5 linked regions of the Homo sapiens genome follow. Changing the gene in region 1 together with any one later gene gives a genetic interaction. Each region holds a gene or a part of one and is shown in the gene's direction. Other genes may lie near its edges.

Region 1 (6,493 bases):
TAAGATGCCCACATTATGTTGCTGTCTTATGTGAGTTTGAAACTCACTGTTATAAGCCTATATTGACCTTCCTGGCAACATTTGTGTTCTAGTACCTTTGTGAAACAGGCCAAATCCTGATAGAAGTGGAATTTTGAGAGAATCAAAGAACATCAGCTTAGAGTGCCGGGTTTCTTTATTTCTCTCTGGTTTTGAAAAGATCTGTTGTCATCTGTTTTTTCACTGTAGCACTTCTTGAATGCTGTTATGCCAGAAGGAGAAAGTTTAGGCTATTTAGTCTAGTATTTATATCTTAAATATTTGATAAAAATCTCACCTCAACCCTTTGAATAGCAATAAAACATGAAACTTCTTCAGTGAGGTCATTTCCAGTATTTACCTGTGGAAGAAGCCAACGAAACATTAAAATTGGATTTTGAATCACAACTGGATATCCTGGTAGGCCCCAACCTATGAGTTGTATTTCAAAAAATAGCACTCACCGTGACCACATGTTATATATTTTTGTTTCTCATCTGCCTCCCTTATTGTTTGTTTCTTATCTGCTTCCCTGCTAGTATGTAATAAGTGCTACGAAAGAAGGGACTCTGGGCCAGGTGTGGTGGCTCACGCCTATAATCCTAGCACTTTGGGAGGCCAAGGTGGGTGGATCATGAGGTCAGCAGTTCGACACCAACCTGGCCAACATGGTGAAACCCCATCTCCACTAAAAATACGAAAATTAGCCGGGCATGTTGGTGCATGCCTATAATCCCAGCTACTCAGGAGGCTGAGGCAGGAGAATTGCTTGAACCCAGGAGGTGGAGGTTGCAGTGAGCCAAGATCATGCCATTGCACTTCAGCCTGGGCAATAGAGCGAGACTCTGTCTCAAAAAAGAAAAAAAAACAGAGAAAGAAAGAAGGGACTCTGTTTGTGTTTACTGCTATATTCCCAGTACTTAGAACAACGTGTGGGCCTAGTGGTAGTCATTAAATATTTGGTGGTGGCTCACGCCTGTAATCCCAGCACTTTGGTAGGCTAAGGCAGGTAGATCGCTTGAGCCCAGGAGTCAGAGGTTACACTGAGGTATGATTATGCCACTGCACTCCAGCCTGAGTGAAAGAGCAGGACCCTGTCTCTAAAAAGTAAGTAAATAAATAAATAAATATTTGGTAAATGAAGGAGAAACTAAATGAATTAACAGTCTTCTAAATAATGGTTATTTTCTGGTTCAGCCTACAGGGTATATTTAACTCATAATATGTATAAAAATTACTAATAGTAGTTCAGAATTTCTGGCCCTCCTGGGAGGCCTGTATTTAGACCCCTTCTGATATTTGAGCCTAACGCCAACTCAGCATGTGCTTGAGCTCTTCTGAGGCTTGAAGACATAAGAAGTGAAGCCTGCTGGAGAGTCCCTGGGCTGGCCCATGGGGAGGGGAGGGAGGGCACTCCATGCCTTCCATGCAACTTGTGAGGTTGCGCAGGAGCTGGCCAGCTGATGGTCTCCATTTTTTCCTACAGGATTTTTGCATCTTTGATGTTAGGGGTTACTGACCCTTTATATTTTCTATTAAAAAGTTTGTGTTTAGCTCAATTGAATTGCTAAAGTATTCTTTTCAGGGAAAGAAATTATTAAAAGTAAGAGGAAAGCACAGGGCCAGAACACTGGACTGTGCCAAATGGAAAGATAAGCTCTGGGGAGGGTTTGAGGCAGCTCATAGTGTGCTTTCTGCCCTCTTTTTCAGGGCCTTCTCACCTTCTGAAGAATGGCTTCTGTTTGGCAGAGATTGGGTTTTTATGCCTCTCTTCTGAAAAGACAGCTAAATGGTGGGCCAGATGTCATCAAGTGGGAAAGGAGAGTAATTCCCGGATGTACCAGAAGCATCTACAGTGCCACGGGAAAGTGGACAAAAGAGTATACATTGCAGACAAGAAAGGATGTTGAGAAATGGTGGCATCAACGAATAAAAGAACAGGCCTCCAAAATTTCAGAAGCTGATGTGAGTATTCTGAGAGATTCTAAGAGGGTAGAGAAGAGGGGTTGAAGGTTTGGACCCTGGGGTTAGACTACCTGGTTCAAATAAGATATTAAATATGTGACCTTGAACCAAATTGTTGAATTTCTCTGTGCTTCAATTCTCTTATCTGAGATGGAGAGTGATCATAATAGTGCCCACCTGCACTATTGGGAGGGGTAAATGGATTGGGAGGCATAAATGAGGTGATACAAAGGTAGTGTTTACAAGAGTTTCCAATGTGGTGGATGCACACATAGTAATATTGCGCACGAGGTGTATGACAGACAGCAGCAAACCAGGTGTTCTAGAGCAACATTTACTGGGGAAGCTCATCAAAATAGGAGCTCTACCAGATGATGGGTCCTTTGTGGTCCATTGCATGGTGGGGCAGCACACAGGGATCTGGCAGGGTCATATCTGAGACTCCAGGAGAGGCACCTGGGCTCCTCGCTGGCTACATGTTCTGAGAAGTAACTGCCCCTTCCCTGGCAATCGTAGCCTCCAACTCTGTTCTGCTGCCTTAGCATCATGGTTTGGGGCACACCAGCCCTTTCACTGTTGTGAACTGGGGTAGGGTCTAACCTTGAGGTAGCAGCTACATGAGTTAGTGGACCCTTGGCTTCTGCACCAGGTACACCAGCTCGGCACTCTACCTGAATTAATGGTGGAAGCATAATACTTGGCTGCAGCCAGTTTCCACAGAGTGCTCTCTGTTCCTTTTCTGGGAGGCCAGCTTGCTGGGAATCAGTCTGGAACGTGTTAACCCTTACCTCTTGATACTGGTCAAAATGACAGCTGGGAGATGTGATTGTTACATGAAATGTTTGAATCTGATTGGAGTTTTAAATTCTGATCATCTCTTTGTAGTAGTTATAGTCAAATAATACAAACCCTCTATGTTTAATAAAGAGATTAGGCCCAAGGCAAGCAGCTGAATAAGTACAGCTGCACAAGACCACACCTCTCTAGACTTGCCTTTTCCCCATCTCCTGATTCGGTCAACACATTCATTCTTTCTGTGAGATTGGTGGTTATGAAAAATGAGTAAGGGGAGGAGAGCTATTTGTGTTAAACTGAAAGATGATTTTGGGCAATGGTTAGAAAGAAAAATTGCTATTGAAAAAGATGTAGTGTGTAACAAGTAAAATGAAATGAAAAAAAGGGAAGGTTTGAATGTAATACATAATTTTACAATGAAAGCTTGACTTCTACCTTGTTAGGAAGTGAAAAGCCCTTGTGTCAACATCATCAGACTAATGTAACTTAATAGATTTTGAAAACAAACTCTTAAGGAGCAGTTTAATTCTGAGTGAGGACAGTAAAATTAGCTTTTTTTTCCCTTTTGGTTTAGATAATCATTTATTGACTTCCAAATGTTTTGATGTTGTAGCTTACTGATTTTGTGACATCTCATTCTTCTTAAGCATACAGTTTTTTAAAATATCAAATGGATCAAAATAAATTGTTTTAGCAATTGGGGAGATAGCATAAGGGGCATTGTGTGTGATCCCCTGGCAGCCCCCTATCAGGGTTTGAATCAAGGAATGGCAAAGCAGAGTGAGCACTCAGTGAGTGAGCCAGAGCCTGGGCTGCAATGCTGGCTCTGCCCCAGGAAACCTGTGTGATCCAGGCCACATCATTTAATGTTTTGGATTCTGGGCTCCTTGCATTGTTTATCTCACAGAATTGTTTTGAAAATCAAATGAGAAAATGTGTGACAAAATGCATTTTACAAACTGAAGTGGTACATAAATAAAAGATACACAAAGATCAGAACGTGGTGTGTCTATCAGGACCTGAGACTATGACGGAATGCTCATGGATTTTGAAGCATTTATAATCGATCTCACTCTGGTATCAGATTCACTTGAAATCCACTCACATAAGTTTTTTGAAATGGAATGTCTTGAAATCACCATATTTATCATTTAAAAAATAATTTGCATTTAATGAGCATTTAACCATGTGCCAGGCACTGTCTTTCAATTGATTATCTCATTTAATCCTGAAACAACCCAGCGGGTAGGTATTATTATCCTCATTTTTGGAGTAAGAAAACTGAGGCTCAGAAAAAGGTTTAGGTAATTTGCCAAGACATGGCAGAGCCAGGATTCAAAATCAAATGTGTGTTTGATTCCTGAGCTCATGCTTTTCCACACAGAAACCTTCTTTTGTCTCACCTTTGATTTACAGTTAGCAAACTGATCCCAGAAGGCAAAAGAATTTGCCCAAGGCCTCACAGCTAGTGACAAAGCTAGGACCAGAACTGGGGCTCCGGATTCCTATTGAGGTGCTCCTTTTACTCTGTCACCCTCTAGGCTCAGCCACAGCTTCAGAGCGTGATCTATAAAGAGGCAGAAGTCATCTTTCTTCTAAAGTCAGAAGCTGACAAAAATAATAGGACCCACTTATAAAAGCCATCCTTTCCCTATCATTTAAATCTTAATCTCTTTTAAAGGCTTAAATTCTTATACTTTTATATAATTATGAAAATTTCCCTTTCAATCAGATTCTTGCTCAATTATAACAGAAACTCCCATCATTCCTTCTCTCTTTTCCACCCCCAGATGATAGAACTCATTTCATTGTCACAGAGGAAAATGACTTAATTCATGCAGAAAAGCAAAAGGCAGGGACAGGCAATAAGCTGAATACCTTTTCTGTAATAAACAGAAATCTTCATGAATATTAAAGACTTTAGAAAACAATACTTTTCTATGTATCTTTTATGAACTCAGATTTGGATTTTGGCTTAGCTAGTATATAATTATTCATTTGATTTTGCTATTAATTTAATCTTTATTGAACAAATGTAAAACAAGAGATGCTAGTAAAGAAATTACAGGTGGAAAATGTTTGGGGCAAGATTGGTAAATTAAATACATAACAAACATTAGTATAATAAAAATAATTTTATGTAAAAACTTTCAAATGAAAAACTAGAAACAGCTTAGATCAAGGATTTTACTGTTTTCCTAGCTCCCAAAGAACTCTTAACAGCTATTTTCCCATATTCCTAAAAATTTCTGAAGAATAAGCCATAAGCCTAATTCATTGTAAGGAGTAAGGCATGAATTGAGTGGATAGTTTTCTTCTGATTCTGCACTAAGTAAAAGAATGGGGTCTTGTACCTCCTTGGACGACTTGCTCATAAGCTGAGAAGGTTATCTGCCACTCACTTTCTTAAGGACAGTTATTAAGTTCCTGAGTTCCCACCAACCCCTGAATCTCAGGTCCTCTCTCAGATTTCTGTGGTTTTCCTAAGAGTTATAAATCTGCAGTTTCTAATTAAAGTGTCTGACCAATGTGTTGCTTTCCATCCTGTTTGTATAAATCCATTGTAGTTGTCATTTCAGCAGTTCCAGATGATTTTCTAATTTGTGTATGATCCAGATTTCTTAATTGTTCTCTTTTTCCCATCTCTTCCTTCAGGCAGCTTAACACTCCTTGGTAATTTCTAGAGGATGGGCAGCACAAAGAAAAGTTCTACTCTAGTTTTTGTGGGTTTCTTTTTGCCACGTGCTAATGGTTCCGTTAAAGGTTTGTTTAACTTCTTTGCTGAAAGAAGTTTACGAACTCCTTGGCAAGAATCTGATTTCTGGTTTCTTCTGCTCTACTGATTATATTTGGTTTATGTGTATTATCAGTCATGCGAACATTCAGCAAACAATATTTAAAAACCCCATCCCACATATGTACATAAAAGAAGGGTTATGAATATTCTGTTTCGTGTTTGTTTGCATTACTTCAGGGGAAGCAAATTCTTAAAGAACTGGAGTAAAGTTCTAGCAAGGGAATAAGGCCAGGAAGAAAAAACAGAAGGCAGAAATAAATAAAAGCAGAAGTTCTGACCCTTAGTGACGAAACAGAATCAGTTACCCAGTTACCTGTTGCTCTTCCTTTCTCTCCAGCCCCTCCACCCTTGACCCTGTCATGAGATGATTTAAACTTGGGTGTGGGGAACCCTCCTATTACTTGGGTAGGATTTGTGAAGTTTGCTGGGTAAAAAGTGCTCCATAGGGGCCAGTTATCAGGCTTTTGGAGCACAAAGGCCAACGAACATTTATCCAACATTTTATGAAACTCCTGCTGGCACTGGGGGCAGACGTGGAGAAAGAGGTGACTAAAGCACAGTTCTTGCCCTTGAACAGTAGGTCCCCCCATGAACAGTAGGTCCCCCCAGTAGGAGTTAATTCAAGGACTACCATCTTTGTTTGCCTTATCCATTCATGTGCACACTCATGACGACATTCATCATTTTACCAGGGGAAGAATTAAGATGCCAGAAGTCAGTGATCCAATAAGGACTCATTGGCCTGTGTTCCTTCTGTTCAGATACATGTACAGTTGTCTATGTTTCTCATGATGAAGCTGCTTCTTTGGAAGCTGGAGAGTTATATAACCCTGGTCTGAGGCTGCTTATTTATCATCCCTGGAGAACAACAACCTTCTCCCTTTTTAAAAGGATCTTCTCATTACCTTCCCATTTCAA
Region 2 (6,493 bases), on another chromosome or scaffold:
TTTTCTCTTTGCATTTCAGTTTGTGTGATCTCTATTGACCTATCTTCAAGTTCACTGATGCCTCAGCTGTGCGGAGTCTACTGATGAGCACATCAAAGATAGTCTTCAGATCTGTTACTGTGTTTTTTTCTCTCCCATTTATATTTGATTCTTTCTTATACTTTTCACCTCCCTGCCGAAATTACCTATCTGATCTTGCATGATAAACTTTTCCAATAGAGCCTTTAACATACTAATCATAGCTATTTTAAGTTTCCTATCTGATAAAGATGGAAACAGTAGACAAAGGGGACTCCAAAAGGGGGAACAGTGGGAGGGAGCAAGAGTTGAAAAACTACCTAGTGAGTACTATGTTCGCTATTTGGGTGATGGGTTCACTAGAAGCCCAAACCCCACCATTACACAATATACCCAGGTAACAAACCTGAACATATAACCCCTGAATCTATAATGTAAAAAAAGAAAGTAAAATAATCCAAATAAATAAACAAATTCCTTGTCTGATATTTCCAACATCTGTGTCATAACTTACTCTGGTCCTAATGATTGCTTTTCTCTTCAGACATTGTTTTTATTCCTTGCTTTGTTCGCCCTTTGTGCTACACCCTGGAGATAATATATCTCTTAAATCTCTTATAGATGTATTCCACTGTTATTTTTACTGATGCTTTTTAGCCTGGTAGTGGGGGAATGGGGACCTGGGACATTCTATGCTATGCTGATTAAGTCTCAGTCTTAGGCAGGCTTACCCTGGGTGTTGGAGGTATGACCTTCACAAGTGTTCCTGCCCCTCCTCCTATGTTCTAACCCAAGTGGGCTTAGCACATTTTCCTGCCCCTCCTGGGTTAGGACTTTTTTTTTTTTCAATTTTCTCCCCCAGCTGTAGTGAGTTTTCACCAGTGCCCTCAGTTTCTGTTGCCCTTTCTTCTGAGGACTAAGACTTTTTTCCCTTTGGGAAGATAAGGTAGATTGGTATGGGCAGAGTTTCAGTGATGTTGGCCATTCTGCTCTGCCAGCTGCAGTGAGTTTCTCCCAGTACTTTCAAGCTGGTTTTTGTTGCCTTTTCCCTGAATAGTAAGGCTTTTGCTCCATAGAGAATATAGGGAAACTAGTCTGTGCAGAATTTCAGCAACAGCTATTATACTGTTCTGCCCGAGCAGAACTACAGGATATCTTTCTCAGGATTCTTCTCAGTCTTTCTTGTCAGCACCTGGGGCAGTTCCTGGAGGAAAACTCTGCAAAGGGGTGCAAAATTGCCTATGTCTGCAGCCCCTACAGGCTTCACATTCTCACACTAGCCCATAACCAGCCTTTAGCAATTCATTATAATTTTTAGCTGAATCCTCTTATAAAGTTTGTATGTTGTTCAGTGGTATCTGCACCAGGTAAGCAAATGCCTGTTCCTGTGGCTCCCTTGAAGATGGTTGTTTCTACAGGTTTGTGGTACTGCAACCTCAGTTTTCTGATGAGTCTGAGAGAAGTTCTTAATTTTCACTTTCCCGGTTTTTTCGTTACTGTAATGGTGGGAGACATGTTCTTTACAACTCTACATTTCTGGCCTAATACCAGAAGAGCCTATGAATCTGAGGATAAGCTTTTGAGGGTCTGTTTATTTTTCAGCATCCATACCCCAGTTTACCAATTCCCCCACAATGGTGATCATGGTGGGTTTACCAGCTCGAGGCAAGACCTATATCTCCACAAAGCTCACACGATATCTCAACTGGATAGGAACACCAACTAAAGGTATGTCTCTGAAAGCCTTTGTTCAACAACCCCATAAAAGCTACTGGCTGAAAACCTTACTTAGGTAGAAGGCCAAAGTCCTCAATACCAGAAATGCCCCATCATTATTATTACCAGCATTAGGACTACTGCTACCACTATTACTACATTCTTATACATTTTATAACTTCTTGAGCACATACTTTGTGCCCAACACCACTCTAGGTGCTAAGCATAGGAAAACTAGTATTAAGATTAAATGTCTTCTCTCAAGAAGTTCCATGACCTCAAAACAATCCTGTGAGTAACATATTATTTTTATTGCCATTACTATTATTGCCATACCAATATTACTACTTTTATTAGCATTACCACTTCTTCACCATTTCATAGCTGAGGAAATTAAGGCCCAAGGAGTGAAGTGCCTTGTCTAAAGGCATATATCCAGTTACAGAACCAAGATATGAACCCAGGTCTATTTGATTCTAAGCCTGATATTCACTGTGCCAAGTCTAATGCATGATTCTACTGATTGGAAGAGAAAAGAATCCCATGTTAGCCCTATAGTCTCCTTTTCTTCATTCTTTTTGTCTCCTTCTTTTCCTTGTTAATCTCAACATCCTGTCTCTCTGCCCCACTTCACTCTATCTCTCCCCCTCTTCCTTCCTCTCCCCAATTTTTGTTTCTTTTTCCCATTTCTTCTTTCTGTTCATCTATGTTCTCTTTATCTAATTCACTGGTGAGGAGTTTCCCGATGGTTTACCATGTGCCCAAACTCCTGCTAGGCAGTGGGGATACAAAACTGGTTGAGACTCACACCCTGTCCTTGAGGAGTTCTGAGTCTAGCTGGGATGTATAAGAATACCTCATATCATCTAGGAATTCTAGAGCAGGAGCAGGGCGCTGTATGAAATCACAAAGGGATATGCCAACTGGAAGGCAAGGAAAGCTTCCTACATAGGATATGTTTGAGCTGAGTCTTGTGGGAGGAATAAGACATTGGCAGAAGGGAAGGAGAGAAGGAGCAGCTCTCATGGAGGACTGCAAGCTCTCAGGAAAATCTGCTGAGTGTAGAGGCACATGGGACACTGGCAGACGGGTTTCTGCCTTAAGGGCCCCATCATGGGTTCTGATTCCCCTGCTTTCTATCTTCTTCACTCAATTCTCTCAAAGGCCTCCAGAGTCATATTTCAAAGCACAAAGCTGAACATGCCTGTGGCCTCCAAAGGTCCCCTTGGCCTGCAGGTTTAAATCCAAGCTCCTTACCCTGTTGTTCAAGGCCCTCCACAATTGGCCCCTTCCAGCATCTCAGGCCTCAGCTATAGTGGATGACTCACCATCCTCCAAACATGCTCTTCCTTCTGCCAATGCCATACTCTTGCTCAAGCTGTTCCTCTACCTGGAATGCCTTTGTTCCTGACTCCCGCTGCCCATATCTGCCTGTAAAAGGTGCCTACCCTAAAAAGCCTGGTTCAAGTGGTGAAACCTTCTCAGATCATTCCAAGTACAATTAGTCTTTCCTTCTCTCTCACTGTCTTCCGTGGCTTAATATTGTCTTTGTCAGAGCATTGAACAAACTCTGTGGGAGCTCTCCATTTACTGGTTTACTCACTGTCTTACCTGTTGGACTGTGAGTGCCTTAAAGGCCCCATCATGAAGATCGGGCTAATCCCTGAGACCCAGAGCTCATATCCTGATTCACAGAGTAGGAGTCAAAAAGTATTTGTTAGATGAGTGAATGAAATATTAACTCTTTGGCTGCTTATCTTCTTTCTCCTCCTTTCCTTCCCTCCTCTCTAGTTTTTCATCATTGCAAGTGGGAAAGTATGGCCTAGAGATTTAGATTTAGAATCTTCCTCATAATATAGAAAAATAAAATAACTTTGGACTAGAAGTCAGGAGGTCCAGTCTATATCTGTCACCAGCTCACTCACTGTTTGACCCTTGGTGATTAATTTTACTCCCTAGATCTCCATTTCTTCATCTTTCCACTGGAGTAGGGCATTTTAAGGATTGGCATTTATGATAAAGTAGAATAATGGAAAGACCACCAGCTATGGAGCTAAATAGACCTGGGTTTGATCTCAGATATCCACAGATAGGAAATAACTTACACTGTGTAAGTTATTTCCTATCTCTGAACTTTCAGTTTCCTCATTTATAAAATGGTAATAGTGATCTCTACTTTGCAGGGCTGTTGTGAGGAATAAATAAACTGGTAGCCATAATTTGAAGTTTTAAAAGCACATTTTGTAGCTACAAATTATACCTTCTTCTACCTCTGAGGTCCCTCCCAGCAAGGACATTTTTTTGGCCACTGGGATCTTCCCAACCTCTTCACTGGCACTCCCTGCTTTCAGTGTTTAATTTAGGCCAGTATCGACGAGAGGCAGTGAGCTACAAGAACTATGAATTCTTTCTTCCAGACAACATGGAAGCCCTGCAAATCAGGAAGTAAGTACCCAATATTTTAGGAACCTGTGCTGTCTCATGGCTGAAAGGCCCTTGTTCAGATATTGGGGGAGTAGGGCAGAATAATCTGGACCAGAAAGGAGGCCCTCTAGACTCTCAAACAGTAGTTGGAACAGCCCTTCCATTTTCCTGCCCAAATCCTGTTTCTGGTCAAGAATAATCTGGACCAGAAAGGAGGCCCTCTAGACTCTCAAACAGTAGTTGGAACAGCCCTTCCATTTTCCTGCCCAAATCCTGTTTCTGGTCATAACCATCCACTTATCAAGAACCTTTAATGGTCTTCTACTTCTGACAGGAGAGAGTAGAAACTTCTCAGCTTAGCATTTGAGGCATGAATCTCAATACCTTGGCCTACTCTAGTTTCTGTAGTCTCATCAGTTCAACCTCAAGGTCTCTCTGCACTACAAGACTCTGAGTACTTGCAGAATAGAGCCTGTGCCTTATGCCTTCATTATAGAACCTGGCAGTGAGTAATCACTAAAGAGATTTTTGCTGAAAGCATAAATACATTGCCACTGTCATGCCTGTGTGTTACCCATGCCAGGAATGCCTTTTACTTCACAGACCACATGCTCTACTTGGGTCCATAAAACAGTTCAGCTTGAGTTCCATTAGCTCAAGGGTTGGAGCCCTTAATATTATGGCTTCTGTCATTGCTCAGCTTTTCCTGATTGTGTCACTTTATACCTGCCCGTAAACCGTGTAAGCTGTGCACACATAGCCACTTTCAACTGTTTGACCCCTCTGTGCTTAGCACGGTGCCTAAAGCGTAGGGCACCCTGTGTAGATGTTCAATACATGATAAGTTAGTCTAAGACATGAGAGATGGTACAGAAGATACTGCAGACAATGAGAGAGAAATCCATCCTGGGGGATAAGGGTTGCCTCTTTTTCTTTCCTGGTCTATTTCAGGCAGTGCGCCCTGGCAGCCCTGAAGGATGTTCACAACTATCTCAGCCATGAGGAAGGTCATGTTGCGGTAAAGAAATTTTTTATTTTTTCCTTGGGTAACTACTGGGAAGGGAATTAGCTAATATGTACTGAACATTTACCAATGTGTACAGAACATTATGTTCTGAGTATTTGCATATATTAATAATTTAATTTTATGCTCCCCCCTTGAGATAGGTGTTGTTATTATGCCCCAATTCAGAGCCCAGAAGAATGGTTCACAGAGACATTAAATAATTTCCCAAGGTGGTACAACGTATACCTGGCAGGGCCAGAAGTGGAATCCAGGTTGCATAGCTTCAGAATCCCCGCTCTTAACCACTATACACTACCAGTCTACCCCCAATAATTCAGCAGGACTATATTAGAATTTAAAACTGCAGTACAAACAGTTTTGAGTTATAGAGACTTACCTAAATATCTAGTCAATATTTTGGCTAGGATTTGCAAATTATAAAAGGGGAGGAGATTCTCAAATATGCAAATGGTCCAATCTCAGGTGCTGAGGTTAGGGAATTGTTTCCTGTTTTAGAGGACTTCTAAAGTGATAAGGAAGGAAGAAGCTTCAGCTAGGAATTGAGAGAACCAGTTCTAGCTCTGCTCTGTCAGCAACTCTCGGTGACTTTGGTCAAGCCAACTTCTTCTAGGCCTCAGTTACCTCACCTATAAAATGACCCTAATAAAAACCCACAATTTCCTCTTGCCTTATTACACTCACAGGGTAGCATACATTTCTGGACAGACCATAAGGGCCCAATATGTGCTTGTGAAATTGTCATAAGCCAATCATGAATCCTTCCTATCCTTCAAGACCTTGTTCAAGTTCTACCTCCATATGGAAGCCCTCCACTTAGCACAGGGATGGGCAAAGAGTAGGTGTTCTGTTAGCACCAGATTCAGAGTAAGCCAATCTCATTACCTGCCTCTAGGTTTTTGATGCCACCAACACTACCAGAGAACGACGGTCACTGATCCTGCAGTTTGCAAAAGAACATGGTTACAAGGTATGGTAACACTCCAACTCTTATCTAGAGCCTATTTCTCCAGCACAAACCCCAAAGAAAGGCAAACCAGGGGACTCAGAGCGGCCAAATCCGCAACCATAAGCTCAACATTTTAATTTGGTTCTCTAACTTTCCAGGATATAGTCAGAAGCAGCAAAGCAGAACAAGAAAGGAGGGGTGCCACATTAGGCAATGGAAGTTGACTGCAGACAGGCTGGCTATGGGGAAAGAGTGGAGAGAGTCACTACAAAAAACTTATATAAGACCTAAACCCAGTAAAGATATAAAACAACAGTCTGGGGTCATTCAGTTTAGAGCCAATTTGCCTCATGAAACTCAGA
Region 3 (6,493 bases), on another chromosome or scaffold:
TGAAACCCCGTCTCTATTAAATATACAAAATTAGCCGGGCGTGGTGGCGCATGCCTATAATCCCAGCTACTCGGGAGGCTGAGGCGGGAGAATTGCTTGAACCCAGGAGGCAGAGGTTGCTGTGAGCTGAGATCACACCATTGCACTCCAGCCTGGGCAACAAGAATGAAACTCCGTCTCAAAAAAAAAGAGAGATGGCTCTGTTGTCCTGTTGCTGTGATTCCTGGAAGCCATCCAGAACAGAGCCATCCAACAGACAGAGCCACATGGGGAACCAAAGAGAGGAAGTGGGGAGATTCATGTCACACATGAGTCAGGGTTAGAGGTGGAGCCTGGACTAGAATCCTGCTCTCTTGACTTCCAGTCCAGGAGTCACCCAAGCCACACTGCTGTCCTGGAGGTCTCTGTCTCAGGGGCTTGTGGGGTCAGGACAGGATCAGAACAAGAAGGGTGTACACTGCGCCCTCATCCTAGATACTGTCAGCTGCCACGCCTGGGGAGGCAAAAGAGAAGGAGGCCATCTCTTCACCCAGGGCCTTAAAAATGGGGGCCTGGCAGCATCACTTCCTCTTCTGATTCCCTGACACTTCTATGAGGGTGGCACACACTAGGCCTCTGAAGATCAGATCAAAATGAGCACCAAAGGAAAGTATTAGCTTCCATCTTCAAATACGCAGATGGGGAAAGTATTCCCAGAGTGGGTAATTTCGAGGGCAAATGGCCTGTAAACCAACTCTGTCAAAGGATTCCAGGCTGTTAACGGAAGCATAGTTTCTACAAGGGAGCGGAAGGTTTTTTCGGTTTCTCCTTCTGGGAACACTAGAATATGGACATTGTCAAGGTACACATCTCTAGCGCAGAGGGGACAGGAGGGAGAGAGAAATCCTATCTGGCTGGAACGTTAGGAGCAGTAGTGCTTCAGTCTACAGTAGTGCTTCTCAAATTCTCTACCCCAAGTGTGCTCTCATAGGCATCTCTTGAGGACTGTTGGAAGTGCACCACCTCAGGCCCATCCACCCAGGCCTGCTGATTCAAAATCTGCATTGCAGAGATTCCCGGGGTGATTTATCTGCACATGAGTTGCAGCGTAAGCAGCACTGCTCTAGACCAGTGGGCCTCAGCTTAGGCTGTACTTTGTGATCACCTGGGGAGATTTAAATCTGTGAATGACTGTTTTGTCCCTAGAGTTTCTGAAGTATTAGTAATTAGCCTGATCCTAAAAGCTCCCGAAGTGATTTTAATGTGAAGCCAGGGGTGTGAGGCACTGTCCAGAGAAGAGAGGGCACAAGGGGCCCTAGAATATGCCCCAATTCTAGTAGGGCTGTTATGGGGAAGAGGACTCCAACTTCTCTGTGGCCCTTGAGGGTAGAGCAGGGGCTAGGAGGAAAATCTCAGGGGTAGATTGGCATTAGGAACAGTGAAGAACTTTCTCACAGGCAGAGCTGCCCAAAACCAGAATGGGTTGTAAGCTCCCTCACCGGGGACAGCCGAGCAGAGACCAATGCTCACTCAGATGGAGTGTGGCAGGAGGGTTTCTTATCAGAAAGGGAGGTTCCAGTTGACCATGGGGTGGTGGGTGGTCAAGGCCTGAGCTGAGCAGTGCAGTGATGATGAGTGACCTCTGCCCCCCAACCCTCTCTCCTATGTAGGGACAGTGGCTTCTCCAGCCAGGGTGTGGACACCTATGTGGAGATGAGGCCTGTCTCCACTTCTTCAAATGACTCCTTCTCTGAGCAAGGTGAGGAGGTCCCAGGGCCAGGCCCCATTTGCTTGATAACAAGGGAAAAGGAGAAGGGGCTGCTGGGGTGAGGGGTGGGGAGTGTGGCAGGGCTGCCCTGACGCCTCTTCCCACCCTAGACCTGGACAAGGAGGATGGACGGCCCCTGGAGCTCCGGGACCTGCTTCACTTCTCCAGCCAAGTAGCCCAGGGCATGGCCTTCCTCGCTTCCAAGAATGTGAGTAGGAACCTGGCCCTGGCTCATAGCCACCCAGGTCTGTGCTCCGGGGAGGCTGGATGAGTGACGATGGGGAGGAGGAAACGGGAGCCTGTGAGGGGGTAGGGGAGGAGACAGAGTATGAGAGAGTCATTTGGGCAGCAGCTGCAAGGATGAGTGGGAGAAAGCTGTGCCCAGGGCTGGAGCTCTGGGGCTGGGCACCTGTGTCCCCAGCGTGAAGATGAGGAAGGGTACCAGGCTTTCTTCATTCGTTTTTACTAAATAGTGTATGAGAGACAACAGTTGTCTCTGCTCATAAAGCACGCGGTCTGGTGGGGATGATAACGGAAGCTTCCTCAGAATTTTGGGGATATTAGATAACGTATAAAGTGCGCTCGGCCTAGGAAGAAGTGCCAGGGAATGGGAGCTCTTGCCATCTTCCTTAGAACAGATTCGGGAGTCAGTGGTTTGATTGTTGGCTCTGCCACCTGCTCCGTGACTTTAAGCAACTATTTAAATTCTGTGCCTCAGTTTCTACACCTATAAAAATGGGCATAACGATTGTTGAAAAGAAAAAGGGTTCAATGTGTGCAGAGTTTAGGGAAGGGCCTGGCAGATAGCAGCTGCTATGATCAGAAGTAACGGTAGGGTTTGGAGACTGCTCTCTGCACGGAAGCCCTTCGCTTCTGGGGCCTGAGCAGACCAGTCAGAGGACAAAGGGTGAGAAGGGCCATGGCTGCTCAGGGTAATGGGGGTTTCTAAGCATTAAATGATCAGATCACGATACACATTCTCAGATCCTGGGCCCTGGTAGAAGGTATAGACAAGGGTTTGTGGTAAAGGACCAAAACTGTTGTTCACTCCAGCAGGGACTCCAAAGCCATGTGGGGCCCTCCCTGCCATCCTCCTCACCTCAGGCTCAGGTAGGAGAAGGCCCAAGACTAACCCTGCAGTGCTTTCCCTCAGTGCATCCACCGGGACGTGGCAGCGCGTAACGTGCTGTTGACCAATGGTCATGTGGCCAAGATTGGGGACTTCGGGCTGGCTAGGGACATCATGAATGACTCCAACTACATTGTCAAGGGCAATGTAAGTGCTGGGAGGGCTTGGGCCAGGCTGGGGAGGGGGTGAAGAGTCGGGGCCCAAAATAACTGGGGACTGTCATCCCAGGCCCGCCTGCCTGTGAAGTGGATGGCCCCAGAGAGCATCTTTGACTGTGTCTACACGGTTCAGAGCGACGTCTGGTCCTATGGCATCCTCCTCTGGGAGATCTTCTCACTTGGTGAGCCACTGGGCCCACTCCAGGCAGAGCCTGGGGCTGGCTCCTCTGGTTGCCCCACTGGTGGACAAAGCTGTTTGGTGCCCAGGACACAGCGAGGGTTGGTGAGAGTGCAGGAATGGGCAAGGGCTCTCGAAACCCAGCATCGTGGCTCCTGCGGGACTCGGCAGACCCTCTGCCCCTGACAGGCGCTCCTTTCTGGCTCTTCCCTCGTTTGTCTCTGCTCAGTTGCTGTTACCTGTTACCCTCCTTTGTCACTGTTTCCCTCCTTTGTCTGAAATCTACAGACCCTTGAAGATGCAGCTCTCTACTACTAGGCTCTAGTAGAAAGAACTGCTATTTCCCGAGGACTAGGCACAAGGACTTGTACTCAGTTCTTAAATACGCTGCTCCTATACCCTCATAACCACCTGACTGTCCACACTTTAACGATACACAGCTGAAGCTTTGGTCTGATTCCAAAGCCTGTGCAAGAATGTTTGGTGTGATAAGGCCTGGATAGAGGCTCACACCTTCCTAAAGCCTAAGCCTGCCACACACTGGCTGGCACACAGGAAGCACCGGGTAAGAGTAGCTGCTGTTGCAGTGTTGTCAAGTGGGACCCTTTAAACCCAGTCTAAGATGTGTGTGGGTGTGCGGGAATGGGGAGAAGACAATGGGCATGGCCTCTTACCTGATCTTGGCCTTTGCAGGGCTGAATCCCTACCCTGGCATCCTGGTGAACAGCAAGTTCTATAAACTGGTGAAGGATGGATACCAAATGGCCCAGCCTGCATTTGCCCCAAAGAATATGTAAGCGAAGGGATCCCAGGGAGGGAAAAGGACACCCCAGGCTTTCGCTGGAAAGGGATGGAAGGCCGTGTGGCCCTGATCTTTCCCTGTCCAAAATGTTCCAGGGTCAGACTTTATCTCTCCCATAGTGGACACAACAAGCCCCTTTTGAGTTCAAGCTATGGGGGATGTTCTCAGAGAAGCAGCTGTTCACTAGGGCTGGTCCTAACCGACCACTTTTCCTTTTTTTTTTTTTTTTTTTTTGAGACAGCATCTTGCTCTGTAGCCCGGGCTGGAGCGCAGTGATGTGTGCAATCATAGCTCACTGCAGCCTCAATCTTCAGGGCTCAAGCAATCCTTTGGCCTCAGCCTCCCAAACAGCTGGGACTACAGGTGTGCACCACCAAGCCCAGCTATTTTTAAAAAATTTTTTAGTAGAGATGGGATCTCACTATGTTGTCCAGGCTGGTCTGGAACTCCTGGCCTTATGCAATCCTCCTGCATCAACCTCCCAAAGTGTTGGGATTACAGGAATGAGCCACTGCACCTGTCCCTAAACAGACTTTTAAGAGATCGTTATTACAGTTACCCTGAGGATACCAAAATGGCCTCATCTGTCAGAATGAGGGTGATGAGAGTACCCTTCTGCAAGGGTTACTGTGAGGATTAAATGGTAAAGCATGCCAAGGACTTGGCATAGGTTTTATACTAAACTTACTTTGACTGGGTTTGGGGACCTCTGCTGGGTAGGTCTCTCTAGGGGTGTGTGTTAATGGCCCCTGGACCCTAGGGAGCTGCCCATGGGCATCCTCTGTCCTATCTCCCAGATACAGCATCATGCAGGCCTGCTGGGCCTTGGAGCCCACCCACAGACCCACCTTCCAGCAGATCTGCTCCTTCCTTCAGGAGCAGGCCCAAGAGGACAGGAGAGAGCGGGTGAGTGGGGTGAGGCTTGGGGTGGGTGGCCGGTAAAGCACGTTGGGCTGGGCCTGATGGATCTGGACTGACAGTTTCTGGTCCCTCCCACCCTCAGGACTATACCAATCTGCCGAGCAGCAGCAGAAGCGGTGGCAGCGGCAGCAGCAGCAGTGAGCTGGAGGAGGAGAGCTCTAGTGAGCACCTGACCTGCTGCGAGCAAGGGGATATCGCCCAGCCCTTGCTGCAGCCCAACAACTATCAGTTCTGCTGAGGAGTTGACGACAGGGAGTACCACTCTCCCCTCCCACAAACTTCAACTCCTCCATGGATGGGGCGACACGGGGAGAACATACAAACTCTGCCTTCGGTCATTTCACTCAACAGCTCGGCCCAGCTCTGAAACTTGGGAAGGTGAGGGATTCAGGGGAGGTCAGAGGATCCCACTTCCTGAGCATGGGCCATCACTGCCAGTCAGGGGCTGGGGGCTGAGCCCTCACCCCCCCCTCCCCTACTGTTCTCATGGTGTTGGCCTCGTGTTTGCTATGCCAACTAGTAGAACCTTCTTTCCTAATCCCCTTATCTTCATGGAAATGGACTGACTTTATGCCTATGAAGTCCCCAGGAGCTACACTGATACTGAGAAAACCAGGCTCTTTGGGGCTAGACAGACTGGCAGAGAGTGAGATCTCCCTCTCTGAGAGGAGCAGCAGATGCTCACAGACCACACTCAGCTCAGGCCCCTTGGAGCAGGATGGCTCCTCTAAGAATCTCACAGGACCTCTTAGTCTCTGCCCTATACGCCGCCTTCACTCCACAGCCTCACCCCTCCCACCCCCATACTGGTACTGCTGTAATGAGCCAAGTGGCAGCTAAAAGTTGGGGGTGTTCTGCCCAGTCCCGTCATTCTGGGCTAGAAGGCAGGGGACCTTGGCATGTGGCTGGCCACACCAAGCAGGAAGCACAAACTCCCCCAAGCTGACTCATCCTAACTAACAGTCACGCCGTGGGATGTCTCTGTCCACATTAAACTAACAGCATTAATGCAGTCAGCCTCTGGTTCTTTGTGCCACATGAGTACCTGCAAATTCCCTGGAACGTCTTTCTTTCCTTCCCTCCTTCACATGAAGTGACGAGCTCACAGCTGTGGAGCTTGACCACACTGTGCCCCATACGATGTGCACGGAATTGACTCCTGCTACACCAAAACCAGATAATTTAATAAACTTTATTCTTGTTGGGGGAAGAGGGAGGGAAAAAAAGCCACCTACTCCACTCAATAAATTAACACATGGCCAATTCCCAGGCCCTAAACAAACCTTGGGCACTTGAGCCAGTCCTGCTGTTTCCTTATGGCCCAGTCTGCTTCCCCTTCATAGAAGGGAGTTTTTCCTACTGCTGCTAGGTTATGTCATGACCAGGGACCACATCCCCTCTGTGGAGAGGGTCCCAGGCCCAGAGAGGATATTGGCTGCAGCAGCAGTGGCCAGGGAAAGGAGGAAGGGGATGCTCTTCCTCAAAGCTTGGGGTGGAGAGGACAGTGCTGGAAGAGAGCTGTGGCTGACTGTTCCTCCCTCCTCAGCTTCCCCCAAAT
Region 4 (6,493 bases), on another chromosome or scaffold:
ACATTTGTGAACTTTTTCTAACTATTCTTAGCTGGTGGTTGTTTTTCTACCCACTTTGTACAGATTGTTGTTTCTGGGGTTTTTCTTTTTGGGCAAATTTGCCAGATTACTCCATTCCTATGGTTTCACTTACCACCTACGTATTGCAGACATTCACATCTTTATATGCTGCCTGTACCCCCTTCCTGGGCATCTGACCTCTGACAGCTTCATCTAGGTGTTCCATAGGCACTTTAACCTCATCATGTCCAAAATGAATTCTCTTTTTCCTCAAGCCAACTCTTTTTCCTGTATTTCCTAGGCCAGAAATTCAAGGACTTTTCTCTGAGTAACTGAGCAGTAATTAAGTATAATTTTTTCCTCAATAATCCAAAGCAGATTGTGAGAAAACATTGCTTTTGAATAATAAGTGAAAAAAAAAATTTAGCCATGTCTATTTATATATTTTTCTTTGATGCTATTAATATCCAGTCTGATTTTACTCGTCACTGAAATTGTATTCAGAATATATTGATGGAATCATTTCAGGTTGTTTTTTCCTCTGCCACCAGATCCTCCAAATGTACATATTATTGGAAATCTGCCTTTTAGTGTTTCAACTCCACTGATTATCAAGTGGCTTGAAAATATTTCCTGTAGAGATGGACCTTTTGTTTATGGCAGAACTCAGATGACTTTGACTTTTCAAAAGGAAGTGGCAGAGGTAAGTTTTAACATTTTGTGACTATTTTATCACATGTTCAAATTCCAAAGCAAAATAATAATACTGCATTTTTACCACAGTCTGTGTTTTCTAAGTTAATATCTTATTACACACACAAGAACCCAGCAGCAGCTCAGCCAAAAGTTAAAACTTTGATGATGATGACAGATGTAACTGCTGTGGGCTTCTGGGAAAACATGAATGATGTATGTTAGCCAAGGAGGTAGTGTGGTAAACACAGGGATGCAACAGCCATCGATGCCACTGGAGAAAGACAAAAGTGATGCCCTGTTGGCCATACCCAGGATTGGCACGTGATACCTTAAAATTGATCCTTTAGGCTTAATGGCATGGCAGTTAAAGAATATGATAATTGGCCGGGCATGGTGACTCATGCCTGTAATTCCAGCACTTTGGGAGGCCGAGGCAGGCGGATCACGAGGTCAGGAGTTTGAAACCAGCCTGGCCAACATGGTGAAACCCCGTCTCTACTAAAAATACAAAAAAAAAAAAAAAAAAAAAAAAATTAGCTGGGTGTGGTGGGGGGTGCCTGTAATCCCAGCTACTCAGGAGGCTGAGCCAGGAGAATTGCTTGAACCTGGGAGGCGGAGGTTGCAGTGAGCAAAGATCGTGCCACTGCACTCCAGCTTGGGTAACAGAGCAAGACTCTGTCTCGGCGGGGCATGCGGGAAGAATGTGATAATCAATTTGGAGCTGAGAAAGAGAAGGGGATTGAGGGTCTCATTATTCAGTATATAAATTGTACTTCCTCCCTCACCTCAGTGAAGTCTGCTATGCCTGCATTCCCATGGCAGAAGTGTTCTGGGTTCACTCTAGAAAGTAAACCCTCCAGGGTAAGCAGGGGTGGTGCTTGAGCTGCAAAGGTATAAGGACGGATGTGCAGACTCTTAAGTGGTTTTTTAAAAAAATTTTATTATGACATATAAGTACAAGAGTATACAGCCATCCCTTGGTATCCATAGGGGATTGATTCCAGAACCCCCACAAATACCAAAATCTACAAGTGCTCAAGTCCCTGATGTCAAACAGTGTAGTATTTGCATATAACCTGTGCATATCATCCCATATACTTTAAATCATCTCTACATTATTTGTAATACCTAAGACAGTATAAATGTTTTATAAATAGTTGTTACACTGTATTATTTGAGGAATAATGATAAGGGAAAAATCTGTACATGTTCAGTACAGATGCAACCATCCTTTTTTATTCCCTGAATATTTTTGATCTGGGATTGGTTGGATCCATGGATATGGAACCCACAGATACTGACGGATGACTGTATAATGTACATGGATGACTTAATAAAGGGCACTCCTGAATCCCCATGTACATGGATGACTTAATAAAGGGAACTCCTGAATCCCCACCCCCAACATGGGTAATTAAATCACTAGTACCTTTGAGACCCCATTGTATTCCTTACTCTGATTGCATCTCCTTTCCATCCCATGCTAGTAAGGTGATCACTACTGTGAATTTTGGATTTATTCCCTTGCATAGTCTTATCACACAGATTTATATTCCTATGATGAATACACTTTAGTTTTGTCCTTTTTTTTTTTTGGACAGAGTCTCACTCTGTCACCCAGGCTGGAGTGCAGTGGCACGATCTTGGCTCACTGCAAGCTCCGTCTCCCGGGTTCACGCCATTCTCCTGCCTCAGCCTCCCGAGTAGCTGGGACTACAGGCGCCCGCCACCACGCCCGGCTAATTTTTTGTATTTTTAGTAGAGACGGGGTTTCACCATGTTAGCCAGGATGGTCTCCATCTCCTGACCTCGTGATCCACCCGCCTCAGCCTCCCAAAGTGCTGGGATTACAGGCGTGAGCCACTGCGCCCAGCCCAGTTTTGTCCACTTTTGACAACTGGGTTTATATAATGTGTATTCATATAGTATGTATTGTTTTTATCCTGAACATTCTTTGTAGGATTCACTGACGTTGCTTATGACTGTAGTTTATTTAGGTAGCTATATATACTACCCACTATTTGACTGTGTAAGATCCTTATCTATTCATTCTCATGTTGGTGGACCATGAATTAGTTTCATCGTTCTGTTTTTACAAACAAAACTGTTGTAAACATCCCATACTGTGTCAGTTGGGGCACATGGGCAACATTTCTCTAGGGTATTTACCTGGGAGTGGAACTGCAAATCTTCACCACTGCATAGATAATGCTAAGTTGATCTCTGAAATCATCACGCCTGTTTATATTCCCACCAGCAGTGTGTATGAGTTCATTTTGCTCCATATTCTTGCCAGTACTCACTATTGCCAGACTTGTACATTTTTATTAATCTCAGGGTAATGGAATGTCATTGTGTTTTCTTTTGTCCTTGCTGGTTTGTAGCAAAATGGGGCACTATTGTGTGTTTACTGGCCTTTTTGAGTTCCTTGTTTTTAGTGCATGCTTTTTGCTCACCTTTCTTTTGGGTTGCTTATCTTTTTCCTACTGATCTGGAGGAGTTCTCACATACTCTTTAATACTCTTCATACTAGTCCTTAGTTAAATGTGTTGAGCATTTCTTCTACTCTATTGCATGTTGTTATTTTCTTTTTATGGTGTCTTTTGAAGAGCAAGCATTCTTAATTTTAAATTTATGTCTAGTGCTTTTTGTGTTTTGTTGAGGAAACACTTTTATCTTGAGTTCATGAAGATATTCTTCTGTTATCTTCTAGAAGCTTTATGTTTACCTTTCACATTTATATCTATAGTCCACTCGGGTTTGATCTCTGTGTATAGTGAAGTAGAAGCAATTTTACTATTTTTAACATATGGGTCCCAACTAACCTAGCTCCATTTACTCACAAGTCAGCCCTCGTTGATCCCTGTCAGCACCTCTGTCAGCATTGGTCTGGTTAGATACATCATATAAGCATTGGTCTGATTAGAAACATCAAGAAAAAAATGACATGAAATCCAGGAAGCAGAGGGCTCCCTACAGGACAGAGAGAAAGGAGTCCTCAGGAAGAACAACCAGTCCAGATTGGAGCCAATTAAAAGGGGAATTTGATAAAACTACTGTCAAGTTTGCATAGAGTCAAAAAAAAGTTGCAAAAACTCAGGAGAGTTTAAGATTGAATTCATGATAAATAAATAGAAAACTAAATATAACAGGGAGTGAATCAAGGGAAATATACCATTATTGGAATGAGAAGTACAAAAATATTATTTGGAGATAAATAATTATTTTGAAAACCTAAGAAAAAATGAGAGACATATATAAAAATAACTACAAAACCTAACTGAGAATCTCAAGGTCACTGAGATAAATCCAGAAAAATATCATAGCCCCAGAAGGAAAAATGATTATTTTAAAGAAGCTGATTTTTCCAAGAATTCTGTATATCTAATTATAATCCTCAAAGAACTTATCTTGAAATACGCAGTTCTAAGGATCATCTGGAGGAATAGACCTGCAACAATACATAAGAAATGTTGAAAAGGGAGAGTGATGAGAAAAGACTTCCTTGTCATATGCTAAAATGTATGGTGAAGCTTTAATAATTAAAGCAGTATGAGAAGCAGCACGTGACAGAGCAATTACTAGACTAGAAAGCCCGATGCAGACACCTTAGCAGTATCTGATAATGGTCAGATCAAAAATCAGCAGTGAAGGAAAGAATTAAGTAAATGCATGGATATTTGGTTAACTATTATGAAAAAAAATTATCTCTAAATTCCATTTGGGTCTTTGGATCTTCTCTTTCTGTCCTCATTACATTCATGCCTTCCTTGGCATTTTTCTATGTATGTATGTATGTATGATATTTAAAGTAGATGTTTTGGCCAGGCGTGCTGGCTCACACCTGTAATCTCAACACTTTGGGAGGCTAAGGTGGGAGGATTGCTTGAGCCCAGAGTTCGAGACCAGCCTGGGTAACATAGCTCCCTATGTTACCTTGTCTCTACAAAAAATAAATAAAAAATTAGCCAGGTCCGGTGCTGCATGCCTGTGGTCTCGACTACTCAGGAGGCTGAGGTGGGAGGATCACCTGAGCCCAGGAGATCAAATTACAGTGAGCCGTGATCATGTCACTGCACTCCAGCCTGGGCGGCAGAGCAAGACCCTGTCTCAAAAAATTGAACAAATAAGTAGCTGTTTTAAGATCCTTGCCTGCTAATTTCATTACCTCTATCATTTCTGTACTCTTTTAGTGATTGATTTCCCCTTCTTGCTATAGGTTGCATTTTTCTGTTTCTTTGAAAGCCTGATAATTTCTGACAAAACATCAGGTATTGTGAGAGTTTTATTTTTTTTAATGCTGATGAGGGCTGGATTTTGTGGTATTGGGTTGAGTGTTGGGTTTGTTGTGACACATAGATAAGATTGCTTGAGGCTTTTATTGTTCTGGTGGATCCAGGGTAGCTTTTAATTTGGGGCTCGTTGAGCCCCAGTACTACATCATGCCCTTTCTGAGGAAGGCACCCAACGCCCTGCATGTTACAAGGCCTCTTGAGCCATGTGAGCCCCAGTTGCTCCTGCCTTCCCCTGGTTCTAGTTCAGGCTCCCAAGCCTCAGGCACCTGCAGATCAGTGCTCAGCAGGGGACTTGGGGGACCCTTGGGACCCTTTTGCTACCTCAGGAGCTCTGCCTCACATTCTCTCTCCCTCTCCTGTTCCTGTCTCCCCCACCCGCTGCTCCTGCACACGTGTGAGCACCGCGTGTGTGCGTTTTCCATGTCTCTGGTAGTCTGCCCCACAAATTCTGCCTGCCGAGGCCTCCCAGATCTCCAGGTCTGGCTCCCTGAGCCCAGGAGACCTCTAGGCTCAGTTTGAGCTGCCCCCTGCCTCTGCTGCAGCCTGAGAAGGGCCTCCAGTCCTCTTCAGGCCGGGCATCTAAGGCTCATCTCCTTTCCATTTCAGTAATGACAGTCCTGCTCCACCTGTTGTCCTGTTTATGCAAACTCTTGTTTCCTATGACTTATTCAGCTTTATACTTGTTTCAGAACAAAACTTTTTAATGCCAGAATTTGTTTGAAATCAATAGACTCTACTACTACATAAGCTTAATTCTTTAAATGCCTTCCTCTCAGATAATTTGAGTGTATCATAAGAATTTCATTTCTTAGATCTATCCCTCTCTTTTTACCCTTGTTTCTGTTTAGGGGAATCATTTCCAACAAGGGCACTTTTGCCTTATCTGCTCCTCAGGGGCATTTGGCAATGTCTGACATGTTTTTGGTTGTCACACCAGGGAGGGGGCTCTGGTCTCTAGTGGATAGAAGGTTAGGGATGCTGGGAAGCATTCTTCAGTGCACAGCAGAGCCTCCCACAGCGAAGAACCACCCAACATTAATCAGCCCAAGATGTCAGTCATGCCAAGGTTGGAAAACTTTCCTTTAGATGATTTGGCCATAAAATCTTTCTCTCAGGAGTCTTGGAACTTCCCATCATAAAAACGTAGGACCGTTGCATGTTTGTTAGGAACCCTGAGATGATATCACCACTTTTCTTAAGGTCTTTGTCATTTCCTCTTCATGAACCTGCTAATTCTCTTGGGTTGGTTTGAATTGGGCCCATGCTGAGTTTTCTTTGTTGTTTTTCTCAACCTTTGGATATGTTGGTTCTGACAGAAACCATTCTTGTTTCCTCTGCACTTATACAACTTCTGACACCAGATGTGTGGGTTTTTTCCACACCAAGCAATCTCCAATTCTCCGAACACCAGCTGGGTATCCTGCAGTTTCATTCAATTCTGACACTGTCCACATGTTTTTAGTGTTAGATCCCACAAGTTAAGGGCCAAGTCCCACAAGACT
Region 5 (6,493 bases), on another chromosome or scaffold:
GTGTTTTAGTAAAGACAGGGTTTCACCATGTTAGCCAGGATGGTCGCATTCTCCTGACCTCGTGATCTGCCTGCGTTGGCCTCCTAAAGTGCTGGGATTACAGGCGCGAGCCATCACACCAGGCCGCCTTTCTTCTTTTTTTTTTTTTTTTGCTTTTTTATGTTCGTCTGTTTTTATTTTGCTTTTGTGTGTTTGTTTGTTTTTCCATTGTTCTTTTGAGGCTGGGAGATTATCATGAGCTGTCAATTCTCAAGCTTTATCTCTGTGAGATAATCTGGTAATAGTTTTATAAAATGTAACCTGTTAGCACTATTAAAGGACATTGTGTGAGTAGATATGAAGAGACAAACAGTAGTGATAAGATAAAAAATACTTTAGAATTTAACAAATACTGTTTCTGTATCTTAGAGGTCATGTGCTACAGTGTTTGGAAAGAGCCCTACGTTGGGTACCACAGTACAGGTTATTGACTTTGTTTCCAATTAGCTGTGGGATTGTGCATGTCAATGACCCCATCTTTCTTTACATGTTCACATTTTTGATATGTTATTTTAGGTGTTGAATTCAAAACATAAAAAGGGTATTTTAAGGCCGGGCGTGGTGGCTCACGCCTGTAATCCCAGCACTTTGGGAGACTGAGGCGGGCGGATCACGAGGTCAGGAGATCTAGACCATCCTGGCACCCCTCTCTGCTAAAAAAAAAAAAAAATACAAAAAATTAGCTGGGCGTGGTGGCAGGCGCCTGTAGTCCCAGCTACTTGGGAGGCTGAGGCAGGAGAATGGTGTGAACCCGGGAGGCGGACCTTGCAGTGAGCCGAGATTGCGCCACTGCACTCCAGCCTGAGCTACAGAGCGAGACTCCGACTCAAAAAAAATAAAAGGGTATTTTGAATATTTTATTTTATTTATTTGTTTTTGAGACATTGTCTTGCTGTGTCACCCAGGCTGGAGTTCAGTGCATGATCCCAGCTCACTGCAACCTCCACCTCCTGGGTTCAAGTAATTCTGGTGACTCAGCCTCCCAAGTAGCTGGGATTACAGGCGTGTGCTACCACACCTGGCTAATTTTTTTTTTTTTGGTATCTCTTTTTTTCCCCTCGGAGACAGAGTCTTGCTCTGTCGCCCAGAGCTGGAGTGCAATGGCTGCGATCTCTGTTCACTGCAGACTCCGCCTCCTGGGTTCAGGCAATTCTCCTGCCTCAGCCTCCCGAGTAGCTGGGATTACAGGCGCACGCCACCACAACTGGCTAATTTTTGTATTTTTAGTAGAGACGGGGTTTCACCATGTTAACCAGGTTGGCCTCGAACTCCTGACCTCGTGATCCACCCACCTCAGCCTCCCAAAGTGCTGGGATTACAGGTGTGAGCCACCACACCCAGCCTTTTTTGTATTTTAAGTAGAGACAGGATTTCACCATGTTGCCCAGGCTGGTCTTGAACTCCTGACCTCATGTGATCTGCCCGCCTTGGCCTCCCAAAGTGCCAGGATTACAGGCATGAGCCACTGTGCCGGCCTTTGAGTATTTTAAGTTATAAAAGAAATATGTGTTTCTATATATATTATATAATATATATTATACATGATATATAATATATATGATATAAATTATATTATATACAATATATTATATATGATTAATATATAATATATGATATATCATATATAATATCAAAATATATAATATGTATATAATAATGTATGATATATATAATATAGTATATAATATATTACATGTATAATATATTATATATAATATATAATACAATATATGTAAAATATATATAATATATAACACAATATAATATGTAAAATATATTACATATATAATATATATATTTTTCAGACAGAGTCTAGCTCTGTCACCCAGGCTGGAGTGCAGTGGTGAGATCTTGGCTCACTGAACCTCCGCCTCCCAGGTTCAAGCGATTCTTCTGCCTCAGCCTCCCAAGTAGCTGGGACTACAGGTGTGCTACCACACCTGGCTTATTTTATTTTATGTATTTATTTATTTTTCTGAGACGGAGTCTTGCTCCTGACCTCATGTGATCTGCCCGCCTCGGCCTCCCAATGTGCTGGGATTCCAGGCATGAACCACCGTGCCTGGCCAGAGATATGTGTTTATTATAGAAAATTTATGAAATAGAATAATGACGATCATATTGTCTACAGGTTGTTTTAATCCCCCCCCCCCCTTCAACATTCTATAGTTAACATTTCTGTTTTTTTTTTTGAGACGGAGTCTCGCTCTGTCGCCCAGGCTGGAGTGCAGTGGTGCGATCTCAGCTCACTGCAACCTCCGCCTCCTGGGTTCATGCCATTCTCCTACCTCAGCCTCTCTAAGTAGCTGGGACTACAGGTGCCCGCCACCACGCCTGGCTAATGTTTTTGTATTTTTAGTAGAGACGGGGTTTCACCATGGTCTCCATCTCCTGACCTCGTGATTAGCCCGCCTCAGCCTCCCAAAGTGCTGGGATTACAAGTGTGAGCCACTGCGCCCAGCAGTCTTTTTTTTTTTTTTGGTTTGGTTTGGTTTTTTAGACAGAGTCTCACTCTGTCCCCCAGGCTGGAGTGCAGTGGCACAATCTCAGCTCACTGCATCTCCGCCTCCTGGGTTCAAGTGATTCTCCTGCCTGAGCCTCCTGAGTAGCTAGGATTATAGACATGTGCTACCACGCCCGGCTAATTTTTGTATTTTTAGTGGAGGCATGGTTTCCCCATGTTGGCCAGGCTAGTCTTGAACTCCTGACCTTGTGATCCGCCCGCCTTGGCCTCCCAAAGTATTGGGATTACAGGTGTGAGCCCCCGTACCTGGCCTTTTTTTTTTTTTTTTTTTGAGACGGAGTTTTGCTCATGTTGCCCAGGCTGGAGCGCATTGGTGCAATCTCAGCTCACTGCAACCTCTGCCTCCTGGGTTTAAGTGATTCTCCTGCCTCAGCCTCCCAAGTAGCTGGGATTACAGGCGCACGCACAACCATGCCCAGTTAATTTTTCTATTTTTAGTAGAGATAGTGTTTTACCATGTTGGCCAGGCTGGTCTCGAACTCCTGACCTCAGGTCATCCACCTGCCTTGGCCTCCCAAAGTCCTGGGATTACAGGCATGAGCCACTGCGCCCAGCCTGAAGTCTTTCAAAATACATTTTTTATTTATCCAGTGTATTATTTTATACTGCACTTTCTTCATCTGTAAAGTAACAGGGTCAGGCATGGTGACTCATACCTGTAAGCCCAGCACTTTGGGAGGCTGAGGTGGGAGGATTGTTTGAGACCAGCCTGGGCAACATCGTGAGACCCCGTCTCTACCAATAATAAAAAAATTAGCTGGATGTGATGGCACGCGCCTGTGAAGATCGCTTGAGCCCGGGAGGTCAAGGTGGCAGTGAGCCATGAGGGCACCACTGCATTCTAGCCTGAGTGACAAGAGTGAGGCCCTGTCTCAAAACAAACAAACAAGCAAACAAACAAACAAAAAACCCAGGGTGGCTGGGCTTAAGGACTAGTTGATTCCAACGATTCAAAACCCATTATAATAGTTTTTAAGCCTGATTATCTGAGATTTTGTCAAGGAAAAAAATTCCACATAACAATCCCAGGCCAGGCATGGTGGCTCATGCCTTTAATCCCAGCACTTTGGGAGGCCAAGTCAGGGAGATCCCTTGAGTCCAGGAGTTCAAGACCAGCCTGGGCAACATGGTAAAATGCTATCTCTACTAAAAATAGAAAAATTAACTGGGCATGGTTGTGCGTGCACCTGTAATCCCAGCTACTCTGGAGGCTGAGGTGGGAGGATCACTTGAGCCCAGGAGGTGGAGGTTGCAGTGAGTCAAGATCAGGGCACCCCATTCCAGCTTGGGGGACAGAGCAAGACCCTATCTCAAAAAACAAAAACAGGAATTTGAGGCCAAATTTATGGATTATATATTTTATCTGCTCTGTATGTGGTTAATAATAGGTTATCCTTTATATGATAAAAACATACTTATGTCCATTTTGCAGGACTTGGCATGGGCTTTTATTGTTTTAAATTGTGATACATTTGTAGCTCTGCTGTTTGATACATTTTGGGATTTGATTTTGGTATGATTTGGTACCCAGTCTTTGTTATGGATACATGTGATTCACCTTGTTATGATATAGTTTTATGTATTTTCGAGGATATGGGTCATAGTGAAAAGTCACGTTTACCTGTACAGACTGAGAATAGCTTGATCTCAGATGGTCAGATGTTGAACCAAGTGGATTAAAGCTGATTTCTTAAACCGGACAAGGCTGCTGCCATTGTGCATTCCCTGGTACTTATAAAATATTATGGTTTGAAATTTTATTCTTATTTCTGTAATCATCTTATTCACCTTAAATACAGAAATACAGACATCTGGCTGGGCGCAGTGGCTCACACCTGAAATCCCAGCACTTTGGGTGGCCGAGGCAGGTGGATCACTTGAGGTCAGGAGTTCAAGACCAGCCTGACCAACAGAGCAAAACCCCATCTCTACTAAAAAAATACAAAAAAAAAAAAAAAAAAAAAAGCTGGGTCATGCCTCTGCAATCCCAGCTACTTAGGAGGCTGAGGCAGGAAAATTACTTGAGCCTGGGAGGTGGAGGTTGCAGTGAGCTGAGATCATGCCACTGTACTCCAGCCTGGATGACAGAGTGAGACTCCATCTCAAAAATAAAGAAAAGAAAAAAAAAACACAGACATCTCAGCATATATTACCATGTGACTTAACCTTTCTATGGTTCTAGCTAATTTTTTAGGCCTTGAAAGGGAAGGAAGCCTAACATTTTCTGCTACCTCATTGGACTGTCCCTTCTGCCAGTAATCCTTGTAGTAATTTCCTTAGACCTATATTGGTCATAATCACTGGGTGCATGACCTTTGATGAGTAACAGTCAGAACTACTGTTTCCTCATATTTCAGATGAGGCCTATGATATATTATGTAGGTTAAATTAGATTCCATATATGAAAACATTCTAAATTGTAAAGCACATTACATATGTTAGTTATTATCAAAGGTAACATCGTGAAAGAAGAGAAGATGAGCTATAGAATCACACAAGCCCATGCTTAAATTTTGACCTTACATTAAACCAAAGAGGATTGATTTTTTTTTTTAATTGAGACGGAGTCTCGCTCTGTCGCTCAGGCTGGAGTGCAGTGGCGCAATCTCAGCTCACTGCAACCTCTGCCGCCCAGGTTCAAGCGATTCTCGTGCCTCAGCCTCCTTAGTAGCTGGGACTACAGGCACGCGCCACCACGCCCAGCTAATTTTTTTGTATTTTTAGTAGAGACAGGGTTTTGCCATTTTGGCGAGGCTGGTCTCGAACTCCTGACCTCAGGTGGTCTGCCCACCTCAACCTCCCAAAGTGCTGGGATTACAGGCTTAAGCCACCATGCCCAGCCAAGATTGAAAATTTTTAGTTTAAATTCAGCATGTTTAGTAGAGAAGTACTTACTTGTAGCTAAAATGATGGGATGAAGGAAAATGAAAATTAGTTTGTAGATAGTATTTGGGTACATGCGGACACTCATGAAATATGTTGTATCGTTTAAATTTGGTTTGTAGCACAGTTTCCTTTACTTTGTGTCATTTAAAAAAATTAAAACCTAGACAGAAGAGAAACGTACTAAATGTTTGAATATAGATAGCACTGTGGCTTTCAGATAGAGTTAAATATTTTTACTGAAGAAAGAGAAAAGATGTGGGCTCTTATCCATAACTTGTTTGATCAGCCTGGGCAATATAGTGAGACCTTGTCTCTACAAAAAAAAATTTAAAAATTAGCTGAGTGTGCTGTCGCCTGCCTGGAGTCCAGCTCCTCAGGAGGCTGAGGTGGTAGGATTGCTTGAAACCGCAAGGCAGGGGTTGCAGTGAGCCAAGATTGTGACACTGCACTCCAGTCTGGGCGATAGAGCAAGACCCTGTCCCAGAAGAAAAAAAAAAGTTGTTTAAGTACTTGCTTGAGATCCTAACATGATCATGGAATAGAATACTTCACTCTGAGGTGAGAAGATCACTTGAGGCCAGGAGTTCAAGACCAGCTTGAGCAACATAGTAAGACCCCATCTCTTTTTGTGTGTGCGTGTGTGTGTGTGAGGGAGTCGGAGTTTCACTCTGTCAGCCAGGCTGCTGGAGTACATTGGCACGATCTGGGCTCAATGCAACCTCCGCCTCCCAGGTTCAAGTGATTCTCCTGCCTCAGCCTACCGGGTAGCTGGGATTACAGGCATATGCCACCATGCCCAGCTAATTTTTGTATTTTTAGTAGGGGCCGGGTTTCACCATGTTGGCCAGGGTGGTCTCGAACTCCTGACCAAGTGATCCACCCACCTCAGCCTCCCAAAGTGCTGGGATTACAGGTGTGAGCCACCACACCTGGCCATGAGCCACCAAGCCTGGTCGAGACCCCATCTCTTAAAGAAAAAAAAAAGAATACTTCGTTCTGAGAAATGTCTAGGGGTAGGTATTACCTGCTTATGAAGTCATCCAT

The links.
Region 2: changes in LARS2 (region 1) and PFKFB1 together harm fitness less than expected from each alone (positive genetic interaction), as found in Homo sapiens cells (one large-scale study listed by BioGRID).
Region 3: changes in LARS2 (region 1) and CSF1R together harm fitness less than expected from each alone (positive genetic interaction), as found in Homo sapiens cells (one large-scale study listed by BioGRID).
Region 4: changes in LARS2 (region 1) and TFB1M together harm fitness less than expected from each alone (positive genetic interaction), as found in Homo sapiens cells (one large-scale study listed by BioGRID).
Region 5: changes in LARS2 (region 1) and XIAP together harm fitness less than expected from each alone (positive genetic interaction), as found in Homo sapiens cells (one large-scale study listed by BioGRID).

Annotation. Positions count from the first base shown.
Region 1 is NC_000003.12:45,392,705-45,399,197, forward strand, and holds part of LARS2 (leucine--tRNA ligase, mitochondrial), read left to right. Parts: intron 1-1,728; 5' UTR 1,729-1,749; coding exon 1,750-1,983; intron 1,984-6,493.
Region 2 is NC_000023.11:54,958,510-54,965,002, reverse strand, and holds part of PFKFB1 (6-phosphofructo-2-kinase/fructose-2,6-bisphosphatase 1), read left to right. Parts: intron 1-1,620; coding exon 1,621-1,746; intron 1,747-4,022; coding exon of another isoform or gene 4,023-4,085; coding exon 4,086-4,179; intron 4,180-5,109; coding exon 5,110-5,176; intron 5,177-6,077; coding exon 6,078-6,152; intron 6,153-6,493. UniProt on the Homo sapiens protein: Synthesis and degradation of fructose 2,6-bisphosphate.
Region 3 is NC_000005.10:150,052,749-150,059,241, reverse strand, and holds the end of CSF1R (macrophage colony-stimulating factor 1 receptor isoform a precursor), read left to right. Parts: intron 1-1,649; coding exon 1,650-1,738; intron 1,739-1,857; coding exon 1,858-1,955; intron 1,956-2,900; coding exon 2,901-3,023; intron 3,024-3,104; coding exon 3,105-3,216; intron 3,217-3,905; coding exon 3,906-4,005; intron 4,006-4,811; coding exon 4,812-4,920; intron 4,921-5,017; coding exon 5,018-5,173; 3' UTR 5,174-5,947; downstream 5,948-6,493. UniProt on the Homo sapiens protein: Tyrosine-protein kinase that acts as a cell-surface receptor for CSF1 and IL34 and plays an essential role in the regulation of survival, proliferation and differentiation of hematopoietic precursor cells, especially mononuclear phagocytes, such as macrophages and monocytes.
Region 4 is NC_000006.12:155,291,163-155,297,655, reverse strand, and holds part of TFB1M (dimethyladenosine transferase 1, mitochondrial), read left to right. Parts: intron 1-551; coding exon 552-703; intron 704-6,493. UniProt on the Homo sapiens protein: Mitochondrial methyltransferase which uses S-adenosyl methionine to dimethylate two highly conserved adjacent adenosine residues (A1583 and A1584) within the loop of helix 45 at the 3-prime end of 12S rRNA, thereby regulating the assembly or stability of the small subunit of the mitochondrial ribosome.
Region 5 is NC_000023.11:123,864,857-123,871,349, forward strand, and holds part of XIAP (E3 ubiquitin-protein ligase XIAP), read left to right. Parts: intron 1-6,493.